Linked DNA regions of Homo sapiens: all the other regions are linked to region 2. Evidence: fine-mapped expression QTL. A gene starts in region 2. Each other region holds a variant in brackets. All regions are shown on one strand. Distances are from middle to middle. Region 1 overlaps SP100 (SP100 nuclear antigen). Region 2 holds the start of SP100 (SP100 nuclear antigen). Region 3 overlaps SP100 (SP100 nuclear antigen).

Region 1 (4,000 bases), 95 kb before region 2:
TTATATAATTATTTCATTATTTCAGTATCTATTACAATGTAATAATAATAGAAATAAAGTGCAGGATAAATTTAATGTGCTTGAAACATCCCAAAATCATCCTGCCCCCAACCCCATCCCGGTCTGTGGAAAAACTGTCTTCCACAAAATTGGTTCCTGGCACCAAAAAGTTTGGGGACCTCTGCTATAAGAGCACTTCAACTTGTGGCCAGTGCGGTGGCTCATGCCTGTAATCCCAGCACTTTGGGAGGCTGAGGCAGGTGGATCACGAGGTCAGGAGTTCAAGACCAGCCTGATCAGCATGACAAAACCCTGTCTCTACTAAAAATACAAAAATCAGCCAGGCATGGTGGCACACACCTGTAGTCCCAGCTACTTGGGAGGCTGAGGCAGGAGAATTGCCTGAATCCAGCAGGTAGAGGTTGCAGTGAGGCAAGATCGTGCCACTGGACTCCAGCCTGGGCAATGGAGCGAGACTCCGTCTCAAAAAAAAAAAAAAAAAAAAAAAAAAAAAAAGGCATTTCAATTTGTTAAAAACTCCCAATACTCCCAACTTTGTTGGTGTGTTTTATTGAGTCACTCCTCACATTTGGCTTTTAAGAAATCGTTATCAAATTATTTCTTCCTGGCCAGCACTGTGGCTCATGCCTGTAATCCTAGCACTTTGGGAGGCTGAGTTGGGAGGATCACTTCAGCTCAGGAGTTCAAGACAAGCCTGGGCAACATAGTGAGACCCTGGCTCTACAACAAATTAAAAAAATTAGCTGATGTGGTGGCATGCACCCGTAGTCCTGGCTATTTGGGAGGCTGAGGTGGGAGGATCACTTAAGCCCAGAAGGTTGAGGCTGCAGTGAGCTGTGATTGTGTCACTGCATTCTAGCCTGGGTGACACAGCAAGATCCTGTCTCAAAAAATTTATTTATTCCTAAACAGCCTTAATTTTGGTTGATAATGGAGCCTGTGGAATCAGGTTTGTACATCATTGAGCACCAGTCAAGAAGTGAGAATAAACATGCCTCATCAGTTGCCAAGTGGTGATGGTTTTTGTCCTAACCAGCTCAGCATACTGAGCCTAAACCTCCCTCAAGAGTGGCAATAGGGGCTTCATAAGAGACTCACTTTTCGTGTGTGTCTTCCTCTGCAGAACTAATGACAGAGTCCATACCTCGAACTCACCAGCTCGGCTCGGTCTGTTCCTTCTGGCTGACTGAGCTCTGTCTGCACCTTGGAGCAGATATTTGGGATTTTCCTTTCCATTCCCACCACCTACTTGAAAATGCTTTTATTTTCTGACATTTGATCCTTCTCCCTAATCGGCAGGCCAGCCCTGTCCATTACTACTTCAAGTTCTTGTCTCTGGAGGCCTCGGTGATCTAGAGCTCAGCCTCCTATACTCACTTTCTAAGGGAAATGAGGAAATTTGAAGATTTCTACTGAAACAAAAGGCTGCTTTTGCACTGAGACACCCAATCCCAGACCCAGGTACCTGGCTTGCATCTTCTAATCACACACAGCAACATACTCCAACTGAGACTGAGCATGCTTCGGGGAAAGGCAGTCATGACATAGTGTGCCTGGAGAAAGGCCTGACTTATTTTGGGGTCATAGTCGGAAATTTATACTTACACAAGGGTCAACTAAGGTATTGTTGTGAGATTCCAGTATTCTCTGTTGAAAAAAACAGAAAGATTGGTACAATATTGAGTGTGATTTTTCATTAACCCCACATTTGAACAGACTTCTTTATTTTTAAGGGATTCATGCCACAGCCCTTCTTTTGTTTCATGTCTGCTTTTATGGACCTGTACATCTAACTGAAGAATAAAAAAGCACTAAATTATGTGTCAGTGACAGTTTGGCCCAATGCAAGTGCCATTTCCTGGCTCTCACACCCAAGGCAGGCCTTCGTGAAACCATTCAGGGAGACTGAGCTGGAGCAACTCTATCGGTCCTCCTACTTCAAGGGGCCTGCAGGCATGTTTGTCTAAATTTGGAAGTGTCCAGGTGCAGTGGCTCATGCCTGTAATCCCAGCACTTTGGGAGGCCGAGGAGGGCAGATCACAAGGTCAAGAGATCAAGTCCATCCTGGCTAACGTGGTGAAACCCCGTCACTACTAAAAATACAAAA[A/G]TTAGCTGAGTGTGGTGGCGCGCACCTGTAGTGGGCTGAGGGAGGAGAATCGCTTGAACCCGGGGGGTGGAGGTTGCAGTGAGCTGAGATTGCACCATTGCACTCTAGCCTGGTGACAGAGCTAGACTCTGTAAAAAAAAAAAAAAAAAAAAAAAAAAAAAAAAAAAAAAAAAAAAAAAAAAAAAAAAAAAGGAAGTGTCATTCCATCCAGAGAAGCTGCAAAGGGAATCGGCCGACTCTTCCTCCACAGCTCCCAGTGACCACAGGGCCCAGAGTCTTGGACACCATGCAGGTGTCCCAGGAATAACTCTAACCCTTTCTGCAGCTCTCCAGGAACACATCTTTGAAGACAAAATGCCTCCAAGATCCCCAGTACTGTAGCTCTTCTCCTGAAGGTAAGCACCTCTCCACTTTCTCCTGAATCTTGAGAGCTTGCTTTGACCTAGGGTATCTGTGGAATGAAACAATGACTGCTAAAGCTTTTACCTGTAGCTCAAGGCAGAGAGGCCTTAGACAAACCACTCAGTGGGATCCAAGGCATGATGATAGAAGAGGTGGCCATATTACCACCTGCCAGAAGCAATCTGGGCCTTTTGGCTAAGATAAAGTATAGCAGCTTAGTGGCCTAGAATCTCCCACTCCATCCCATGAGTTATTCACCCAGGTAAGACAATAAGGTTGACAGAATCCTTAAGGTTCATCCTTTTGGCCTCCTTTGTTTTGCATTATTTCATTGGCCAAGCCCATCACCTGGAGCTTTGTAGTGGCTCCACAGTTGTTTGTTTAATGGATACATAAGTGCATGAACAAGTGAACACAATTGTCACTTGGGAGAAGAGGTTTCTTAGCAGCCAGTAAACGATTAGCTTGGACTTTTATGACTTATTATCCTGGGGTATCTCAGCTATCACCAGCAGGTTTAACAAAAAACTTATAAGCAGGAAAGCTGGCAACAATAGCAGTTACCACGCGGTGCTGAGAGTGACACAAGCATTAGAAACCGAGGGGAGAGGAGGGAAGATAGACCCTCCGGGGAGATCCTCTGAGAACCGAGGCAATTTCACCTCTAGAGCTGTGGGCCCTCAGGGAATGGAGAGAGGGTGCCTGTGATGAAGGGATGGGAGATGGCCAGCTCAATTGATTAGCCCAGACTGCATCAGCCTTGACTGTCTGGCAGTGGGTAGACATGTTTGATTTTAATAATTATATCAAATAATGTCTTTCTCCAGAAAACCCAGTGGATACAGAGCCTAGTCACTGAATCTCTAGTCATAAAGCCAGTGGAGCAGGTAGCCCCAGGAGCCAGCTTTGTAAAGATTGTGACTTCCTGGTATGGCAGAAATATCCAAGGTCACCCATGTCAGAGCTTAGGAAAATGGAAGTTCTTCCATCTCCTTCCTTCACCAGGTTCTCTCTTATACCCAGCCTTGGAGAGGCCATGGAAGGCATCAGTGATCTCACCATTTTTCCATAGAATACATATAGTATGAAGACCACTGGTCTATGAACTCCACATACTACCTCCACAGAGGGAGAATTTCACCTTCACAGATAGAAGTGAGGTCTGTGCAGCCCTTTTACTGGGGCCAAAGGGCCTCTCCACAAAGGAAAAGATTTTCTAGGTCAGCAGCCTCACAGGGCACTCTGCCTCCCAGTCCAAAATTTTCACCTGAAGAACTCGCGTGTGTGTGTGTATGTGTGTGTGTGTGTGTGTGTATGTGTGTGTGTGTGTGTGTGTGTGTGTGTGGTGGAGGTAAAAGATAAAAGAAAAGGAGAGAATGTTTTTTGTTGTTTGCTTCCCTGGGTGACATATGCCTATATATACATTTTAGGGGGAATTCTCCATTAGGTCATGTGTAGTGACCATGGGAT
Region 2 (4,276 bases):
GGGCAAATAAAAGCTGTGAAGGCTAAAGTGGCTCCAATGTAAGAATATTTTTGTTTAAAAATTTAAAAAATTTTCAGAGATATTAGAGGAGGAACTCTTCCTGGAATAGCGGTAGCAGCGAATCTGCCACCTTAACACAGAAATAATTGTAAAAACTAAGAGTGCTCACAGAGGGTGTCAGCATCACCTCGTTTATAACAAGGGTGCATCTATCTTAAAAAAATCTGTATCACAAGAGGCCTATATGTTAAGTTTTAAGCTTTAATAAGATAAAAGTCACCATAGACAAAGGTAATGGACAAGAAAAGTATATTTATACTTACAGAATATTTAGTGAATTCTCCCATATCACGAAAAAAAGGACAAACACCTCAACGGAATCATATTGGCAAAAAACAAACAAGCAATTTATAGAAGAGGGAATTTAAATGGCCAAGAAACATGAAAAGCTGATCAATTTTCCCATCGTAAGGAAAATACAAATTAAAACAAGACATAACTCTTCATTCATCACCTTTGCAAATCGTGGCTGTGTGCAGGAAGATGGTTCATCTCATTTGCTACTGGTGAAATACATTCATTCAGCCTCCTAGAAAGACAATTTGGCAGGACCAAGTAAATAACTGGACCCTTTGCCTCAATAATTACATTTTTAAGGTTTAGAGACAAGATAAATATTTGTTTAGATGTAAAAACCCAAAAAGAAATATATAATCATTGTTATGATAGCTTATTGGTAAATGTGAACAATTTAAAAACAATCTAAATGTCCTTCAATTGGAGAATAAATAATTATCATATATCAATTCTATGGAATAGCATGTATAAAAAGAATGAGGCAGATCTATATGTATTAAGGTTAAAAGATCTCTAAGTTTTCCACTATTAAAATAAGTAAAAATGCAAAATGCAGACTAGCACATGTAATATAATTTATTATAAATCAAGAACATAAATTACGTATTTACAAAAAATGCATTAGATATATAAATGCATAGAAAAATATAAGAAAAGCTGTGCCCAAGACTCTTCACAGGACTGGGAAGAGAAGCTACAAGAATGGCTGAGTGGCAAAGATGACTTTTTCCTTAATATACTTCTCCACTGTTTTAAATTTTATGAACAATAATGTACAGTGTATTTCTTTTGTATTAAAAAATTTAAAAGATTAAGTAATGTTATTTCTCAACTCACTACTAGAGAAAAGTTAGGATTTCCTTCTCTTTTCTGGTCAGAGGTATCCCCCATCTTGGGACAGGAAATTGAGGTAAAAATGAAAATATTTAGCCGTTTGTCACCCTGGGCCTTTTTCTTCCCTTTCCTTCTTTTGATCAAGGTTGATGGAATAAGAACTCAGACCCTGAGCCAGTCATGGGAACAGCCGGCAGAGGCCCCTTGCCAGGACAGGTGAGACCACAGCGTCTGATGTTTAAAAGTAAGCCAGGTGTTTACCCTGGAGTGTTTATTTTCTAAAGCACCTTTTTTGACATGACATATTTGAAGGTAGAGGAAGGCTGAGGGGTGAAAGGGTTCACAGATCATGAGGAAATAGTTAATCCCAGCCACCAACAACTGCTATGTTTAGAGTGTCCCGGTCAGCTGAGCAGTAAATCCAAAACAAGAAAGTCACGTGTGTTATGGCAAGTTGAACTCACACCAACAGCTGTCCTGCTCCTGTTTAAAAAATCTGATTTCCTCATTACTTGTCTTTCATTTCATTATATAACATCGCATACCTATGTTCTTGCAAAGAAGGATTAAAGTGAAGCCTTAGGCACAAACTGAACTAAAGGCATGAAAGCTGCAATATAGCCAGAGATAAAGGTTAAAGGAAGGGAGATAAAGACTCACCTGGTGCTCAGGTCGCCGCCCCCACCTGCCATCTTCCCACCCTAGGCCCTGCGTGGGCCTCAGAGCCTGGCCTCTGAGCCCCTCAGTCGGCCCAGCCTGCGTGCAGTGTGGCTGCCCAGGCCCCAAGCAGGAAGTCGGCCGACAGACTGACTCAGAAAGGGCTCCGCCCAAATGGGGAAAAGAGAAGTGAAAGTATTTAACCTCCTTCTGGGCTACGGACACTGTGTTTCTCCTCCTTTTTCACTCCAAGGGATTCTCAGCTTTTCTGAAATGTGGCAGAGGGTTGGAGGAGAGGCCTGACAAGCAGCAAGACCTGCAGGACCAGGGAAGGAGGGCCCAGGGGACGAGCAGGGCCAGCTCCCGGGTGTCCACTTGTTTGTGCAATACACAGCCAAAAAAAATGTCCTTGAAACAAAATTGTCCTTAGCTGCTCTGCCCTCTAAGAGGGGGCATAGTTTACATGGGAGTTGGGGGGGAAACTCCATGTTTGCCCCTTCCCCTTGCTGACATGGCTTGGGGTGGGAGTTGGAGGGTTGGAGGGAAAGCCAGAAACCTCAAATCTTCTCTCAGGCCCATGGGAGAGCATGGACTGGACTAAGGTAGGTCCTGACATTGGGACCCAGGGCTGGAGAGAACCAAAATGCTCAGCATTATAACCTGGGGAGAGTGTGCTTAGCCTTCCTGGAAATCAGCCAGAAGTAAGAGAGAACTCTCCACACCCCTGGGACCAGAGGCTGGAGCCAGCATGGTAAGAAAGGCAAACATTTTAAGGGGCAAGGGTTTAAGGAATCTTGACTATGGGGCCGCCTTGGAACAGCCAGGGGTGAAGAGACACCTAAGCTTCGGAGAAGTCACTGGAATCTTGAGAGAACAAAAGCTTCTCATTGGAGGAGGATGGAGGTTGGAACCCAGATGATCTAGACATGGAAGGGCAGGGTGGCTCCCGCGGGAGGTTCTATCTCTGCCCAGATTTTCCATTTAGATTCTGATTCATCATTCCTCAGAGAACAAGAAGCGACCGAGAAGACTCGCTTTACATCAGTATAAAGTCATAGGTAAAGAAACAGAAGCAAAGGGCGCATGAGAATGGGGCCACAGGACACAACCAGGGACCAGAACTCCAGGCCGGACCATGGGGCAGAGACAGGGAGGCAGCTGGGAGCCTGGGGGCGCTGGAATCCAGGGCCCAAGGTGAGCAGAGGGTGGAAGCTGGTGAGGATTCAGGGGCCAGAGGGGATGGCACTTCAGAACGGTGTTTTCCAAATGGCATTCTACTGAATCCAACTTCTTCCAGCTGTGAATAAGGATGCTTGTCCAGGTACATTTGAAAATGTGGGGGAAGGGGCTTTCTACCCTCACTCTACTTCTGCTCTTCTTTTCCCCATGAGTGAATGACCAGGCACCAGGACATTGGTGAGGACAGCTTTGCCGGTGGGCGAAGGTCACTGTTTCTATCAGGCACTGCACACCTGTAGGTCTCTCTCTCTTTCTCTCACCTGTAGGTCTCTCTCTCTTTCTCTCATTCTTCCTACCCCCCATGACTCCCCGACTTTATGGGGCTGAAGGGCTGGTAAGCTGAGCCTCTTTTGGGCACAGCTGTCCTTTGATCCCAGTCTCCATGAGGCACATTGGTCCCAAGAAGTCCTGGCATGGACCACACAGTATGCTTTGGTGTGGTTCACGTTCTCCCCTCTCGCTGCCTCTGGGCAGCAGGCAGGCTCAGGCCATTGAGTGGCACTGACATAAACGTGCCAGCTTTTCCCTGGATGTGCTTAGGGGCTACTAAGAGCAGCACCTGGAATTCCAGACCAATGAGCCACAGGCTGGCAGGGAATTCCTTACGGGTTGAACTTCACGGGCAGACATGCCCATGCTGGGGCACCTCCTGGCAGCAGGGAAGGAGATGTTCTCATCAGATGAGGTTGGAGACAGATGAGCATGCACCATGCTCCGCTGGTATATGGAGAATCTGTAGGCCTCTGTGAAGAAAGCAAAGTTTCTCTGATCCAGAAAACAATGTCAGACACACTGGGGTTGGGAAAGGGACGGGACCACATTAAGAAGACATGTGAGCTAAAAATCCTGCTGGACTGTTTAGAAGGAAATAATGGAACTCCTGGGGCATTTTCCATGGCTGCAAGGAGCACAGGCAATAGGGAATATTTCTGTTGTCAAGAAGTAGTTCCAGTTACTGGAGCCTGGAAAACTCAAAAGCAGGGGAGGCAGTGATTGAGGAAGGACCACAGGCAGGGCACCCAGCCAGATGATGGGCCTCTTACATTTCACCAAGAGCAGCTTCAGTTCAGACTTCAGTGGTGTGGGTGAGGCAGGAGAATAGGGTCTGGAGGCAGGGAACCTAAGGCCATTTCATGCTAACTTCCTAGAACTAAATTGAAAGGAAAACCCTAACTTTCCATGCCTAAGT
Region 3 (4,000 bases), 51 kb before region 2:
AAATCAATAATATCTAACTAAAAGATCTATAAATCTTATGACTGCTTACACTGTTGACAGAATTTGGACTATAAATATTCTATGAGGATCATTTCTGTCTCTTCCCATCTAAGGGAAAGAGATTACTATCAAATGGAGCACAGACCCACAATCCTTTAGCCCTAATTGCAAAATCAATGACTTTTTTTTTTTTTTTTTTTTTTTTGAGACAGGGTCTCACTCTGTCAGCCAAGCTGGAGGGCAGTGGTGCAATCTTGGCTCACTGCAGTCTTGACCTTCCAGGCTCAAATGATCCTTCCACCTCAGCCTCCCACATCACTGGGACTACAGGCATGCACCACCACCATGCCCAGCTAATTTTTTGCATTTTTTGGTAGAAATGGGGTTTTGCCATGTTGCCTAGGCTGGTCTTGAACTCCTGGGCTCAAAAGATCCACCTGCCTCAGCCCCTCAGCCTCCCAAAGTGTTGGGATTATAGGCGTGAGCCACCACACCTGGCCTCAAAGATATTTTAATAACCAGTATTGTTTTCATAGGTTTGCAGCTAACTAATTTGGCAGTGAATCTGGACTTGAGTTGCCATGAGTCCGTGTAAAATCTTATCATATTTGGTGTGAATATTTATATAATTTGCTGTATAAACATTAGTATATTTGAGAATGGGATTCTTCCCTGGATCCTACTAGGGTATTTTGTTGTATATAGAATATAAACCACATTGTCTTTCTAAAATAATAAAACATTTTTTGAACTTTGAAGTACATCTGGCTTTGAAGGTTTTATAGAGGATTATGAATGTTTATTAAGAGTTTGGGTTGTTAGTCTTGTCTCCTCCTATAACTTTCCATATGTGATGTGCAAAGAAAAAAGATCCTTAAGTGTGCCTTAGTTTCCCCATCTGTCAAATGGGGGGAACAATAGTTATCTCACCCACCTTTTAGGTTGTTGTAAAGATGCAAGTAGATCTTATTTGTAAATATATTTTCAAATATCACTATTTGGCCAATTTCATGTTGGGGGCCATCTGTCAAAAGCTATGAATTGAATCTGATGGTAAGAAACAGGAGGCTTTCTTTCTGTCAATAACTAGAGAGTATGACCAGAAGCTTTGGAATTTTGAACAAGTTGGTGACAAAATCAGGCAATAACAGACTAGTGTACTTTCTTTTCTTTACAAAACAGAGAATGAGCAGAAGTAGAAATCACTACATAAATCCAATACTTTGGAGTTAATAGGTCTGGCAGTGATATGGTTTGGCTGTGTCCTCACCCAAATCTCATCTTGAATTCCCATGTGTTGTGGGAGGGGCCTGGTGGCACGTAATTGAATCATGGGGAGAGATCTTTCCTGTGCTGTTCTTGTGATAGTGAATAAGTCTTACAAGATCTGAATGGTTATATAAGGGGGAGTTTCCCAGCAGAAGCTCTCTTCTCTTGTCTGCCACCATGTGAGACGTGCCTTTCACCTTCTGCCATGATTGTGAGGCCTCCCCAGCCATGTGGAACTGTAAGTCCATTACACCTCTTTCTTTTGTAAATTACCCAGTCTCAGGTATGTCTTTATCAGCAACATGAAAATGGACTAATACAGGCAGTATGTAGTAAACAGGCCACTGCCACTCAACCACAACCATCTTGTTAAGCCTGAATTTAGAGTGACTTCTTTCTTTGCATTTTTCAAAATGGCCAGATGAGGTAGATGCAGAGAACTGGCTCCTGGATAGCTGTTGTGTGTGCTCAGAGCACAGTGCATCAGGGAAGAGGTGCTCTGAAGTCAGAGCCCTGAAGTCAAGGGAGCTGTTCTTACCCTTCTCACCATGCTTGCTTCTCAGTGCCCCGCTCGAGGCTTCTGCGGGCGCCTCCTCCTCACTGGATTCTGAAAAGTCGTGGTCTTGTCCTATCACTGCAGAAAGGAGCAAATGTCCTTTGGAGCTCTCAATGTATGATAAGGGAACCAAGTCAGAATAATATTCTATGAAAAGGAAACTAGGAAAATTTGTGATGCTCTGAAACTTCAGGGCAAGAATGTCC[G/A]TGCCTCAAACCTCCATGATCTGCCTTTTCATTCAGATTTGTGTGGCTCAAGGTTAGTATTTTATCCCTCACTGTCACCTGAGCCTGAGGCTGAGAAAATTTTAGCCCCAGTGGGCATCTCTGCTTTGTCTTGGCCCTCTGTCTTCTTACACCACATTATCTTTCTTTCTTTACTTGTCCCTTTATGGTTTTGTTGTGGTTTTTGTATATGGATTTGTATTTATTTGTAAATTTGCTTCTCTCTCAGGGCAACCATGAAAGTCTAGGATGGGAGAAGGCAGATCTTCTACTTGCCTGCTTCCCTGAAGAACTGCTTGAAACAGAGCCCAACCTTTCCCTCATCTAAAAATCCTTGAAATATTCAGTTGAAAAAAATACAAACTTCTACTAAAAAAATAAAAAACCTTCTGTTGTGTTGGGGTCATTGACTTCTTTGGGTTCATATGTTATAGCAGTTAGCCAACCTCCCTAATACAAAGGCTAAAATAGGAACCATTGAAATTTAAAGCAAATTTATATTTTACTTTGAAGGATATAGCAAGGAATTAGACTGACTCTTTTGTAGAAAATATTGTTCATTTATAACCATGAAGAGAAGTTATTTTCTCTTACCTCTTTTCCTAAAGCTTTCTCTTACCTCTTTTCTTAAAACTTTCTCTGAATGTAGATAATTTTCTGAAATCCATGGGCTCTGTAAAGTAAAAGGGAGAAACCCGTTATTTGTATGCAAGAGACTTATAAATTCTATGACAACTGACATGGCAAATGGGCTTGGGTTAATAACAAAGTTTTTTTTTTTTTTTTTTTGAGATGGAGTCTTGTTCTATCACCCAGGCTGGAGTGCAGTGGTGCAATCTTGGTACACTGTAGCTTCTGCCTCCCAGGTTCCAGTGATTCTCCTGCCTCAGCCTCCTGAGTAGCTGGGATTATAGTTGTGCACCACCAAGCCCGGCTAATTTTTGTATTTTTAGTAAAGACGGGGTTTCACTGTGTTGGTCAGACTGGTCTCGAACTCCTGACCTCAGGTGATCCACCTGCCTCAGCCTCCCAAAATGCTGGGATTACAGACCTGAGCCATCGTGCCCTGCCAATAACAAAGTTTTGATGAGCGTTTTTCTCTCTCTCCTTCTAGTGAATCCAGTTCTGGAGGTTCAGGGTCATAATGTTGGGATCCTGCCCAGCTCTCTCCATAATCCTCTGTGTGTATTATTTGGAAATGCCTCTTTTTAATTAATTTTTTCAACTTCTATTTTAGGTTTGGGGGTATATGTGAAGGTTTGTCACATGGGTAAATGTGTGTCACAGGAGTTTGTTGTACAGATGATTTCATCACCCAGGTATTAAGCCCAGTACTCAATAGTTATCTTTTCTTCTCCTCTCCCTCCTCCAACCCTCCATCCTCAAGTAGACCCCAGCATCTGCTGTTTCCTTCTTTGTGTTCATAAGTTCTTATTATTAAGATCCCACTTACAAGTGAGAACATATGGTATTTGGTTTTCTGTTTCTGCGTTACTTTGCTAAGGATAATAGCCTCCAGCTCCATTTACGTTCTCTCAAAATACATGATCTCGTTCTTTTTTACTTATTTTTTTTGAGACAGGGTCTCACTCTGTCACCCAGGCTAGAGTGCAGTGGCACAATCGTAACTCACTGCAGCCTCAACTTCCCAGGTTCCAGTGACTCTCTCACCTCAGCCTCCCGAGTAGCTGGATCACAGGTGCACACACACTACCATTCCTGGCTAATTTTTTTTTTTGAGATGGAGTCTTGCTCTGTCACCCAGGCTGGAGTGCAGTGGTATGATCTTGGCTCACTGCAACATCCCTCTCCTGGGTTCAAGTGATTCTTTGGCCTCAGCCTCCCGAGTGGCTGGGACTATAGGCAAGCGCCACCATGCCTGGCTAATTTTTGTATTTTTAGTAGAGACAGGGTTTCACCATATTGGCCAGGATGGTCTCGAACTCCTAAT

What was found. PIP is the estimated chance that this variant, and not a neighbour inherited with it, causes the effect. A credible set is the group of variants that fine-mapping cannot tell apart.
Region 1: its variant is the best candidate, but not a certain one, in a credible set for the expression of SP100 in whole blood (INTERVAL, PIP 0.85).
Region 3: its variant is the best candidate, but not a certain one, in a credible set for the expression of SP100 in whole blood (TOPMed, PIP 0.51).

The regions. Positions count from the first base shown.
Region 1 is chr2:230,508,793-230,512,792 of GRCh38, reverse strand. SP100 (SP100 nuclear antigen) reads right to left here. Exons shown (of 29, transcript NM_001080391.2): 24 at 1,627-1,668. LOC101928816 (a long non-coding RNA gene) reads left to right here. Exons shown (of 4, transcript XR_427235.4): 2 at 2,454-2,523. Among named protein-coding and RNA genes, the nearest start is that of SP100, 95 kb to the right of the region's middle. The variant A/G (reference allele first, on the strand shown) is at 2,129.
Region 2 is chr2:230,413,904-230,418,179 of GRCh38, reverse strand. It overlaps SP100 (SP100 nuclear antigen), which reads right to left and starts at 1,979. Exons shown (of 29, transcript NM_001080391.2): 1 at 1,852-1,979; 2 at 515-589. The coding sequence starts at 1,883. RefSeq lists an enhancer at 1,813-2,332.
Region 3 is chr2:230,465,023-230,469,022 of GRCh38, reverse strand. It overlaps SP100 (SP100 nuclear antigen), which reads right to left. Exons shown (of 29, transcript NM_001080391.2): 12 at 2,669-2,722; 13 at 1,808-1,903. All of the region lies in intron 3 of LOC101928816 (a long non-coding RNA gene), which reads left to right. Among named protein-coding and RNA genes, the nearest start is that of SP100, 51 kb to the right of the region's middle. The variant G/A (reference allele first, on the strand shown) is at 2,032.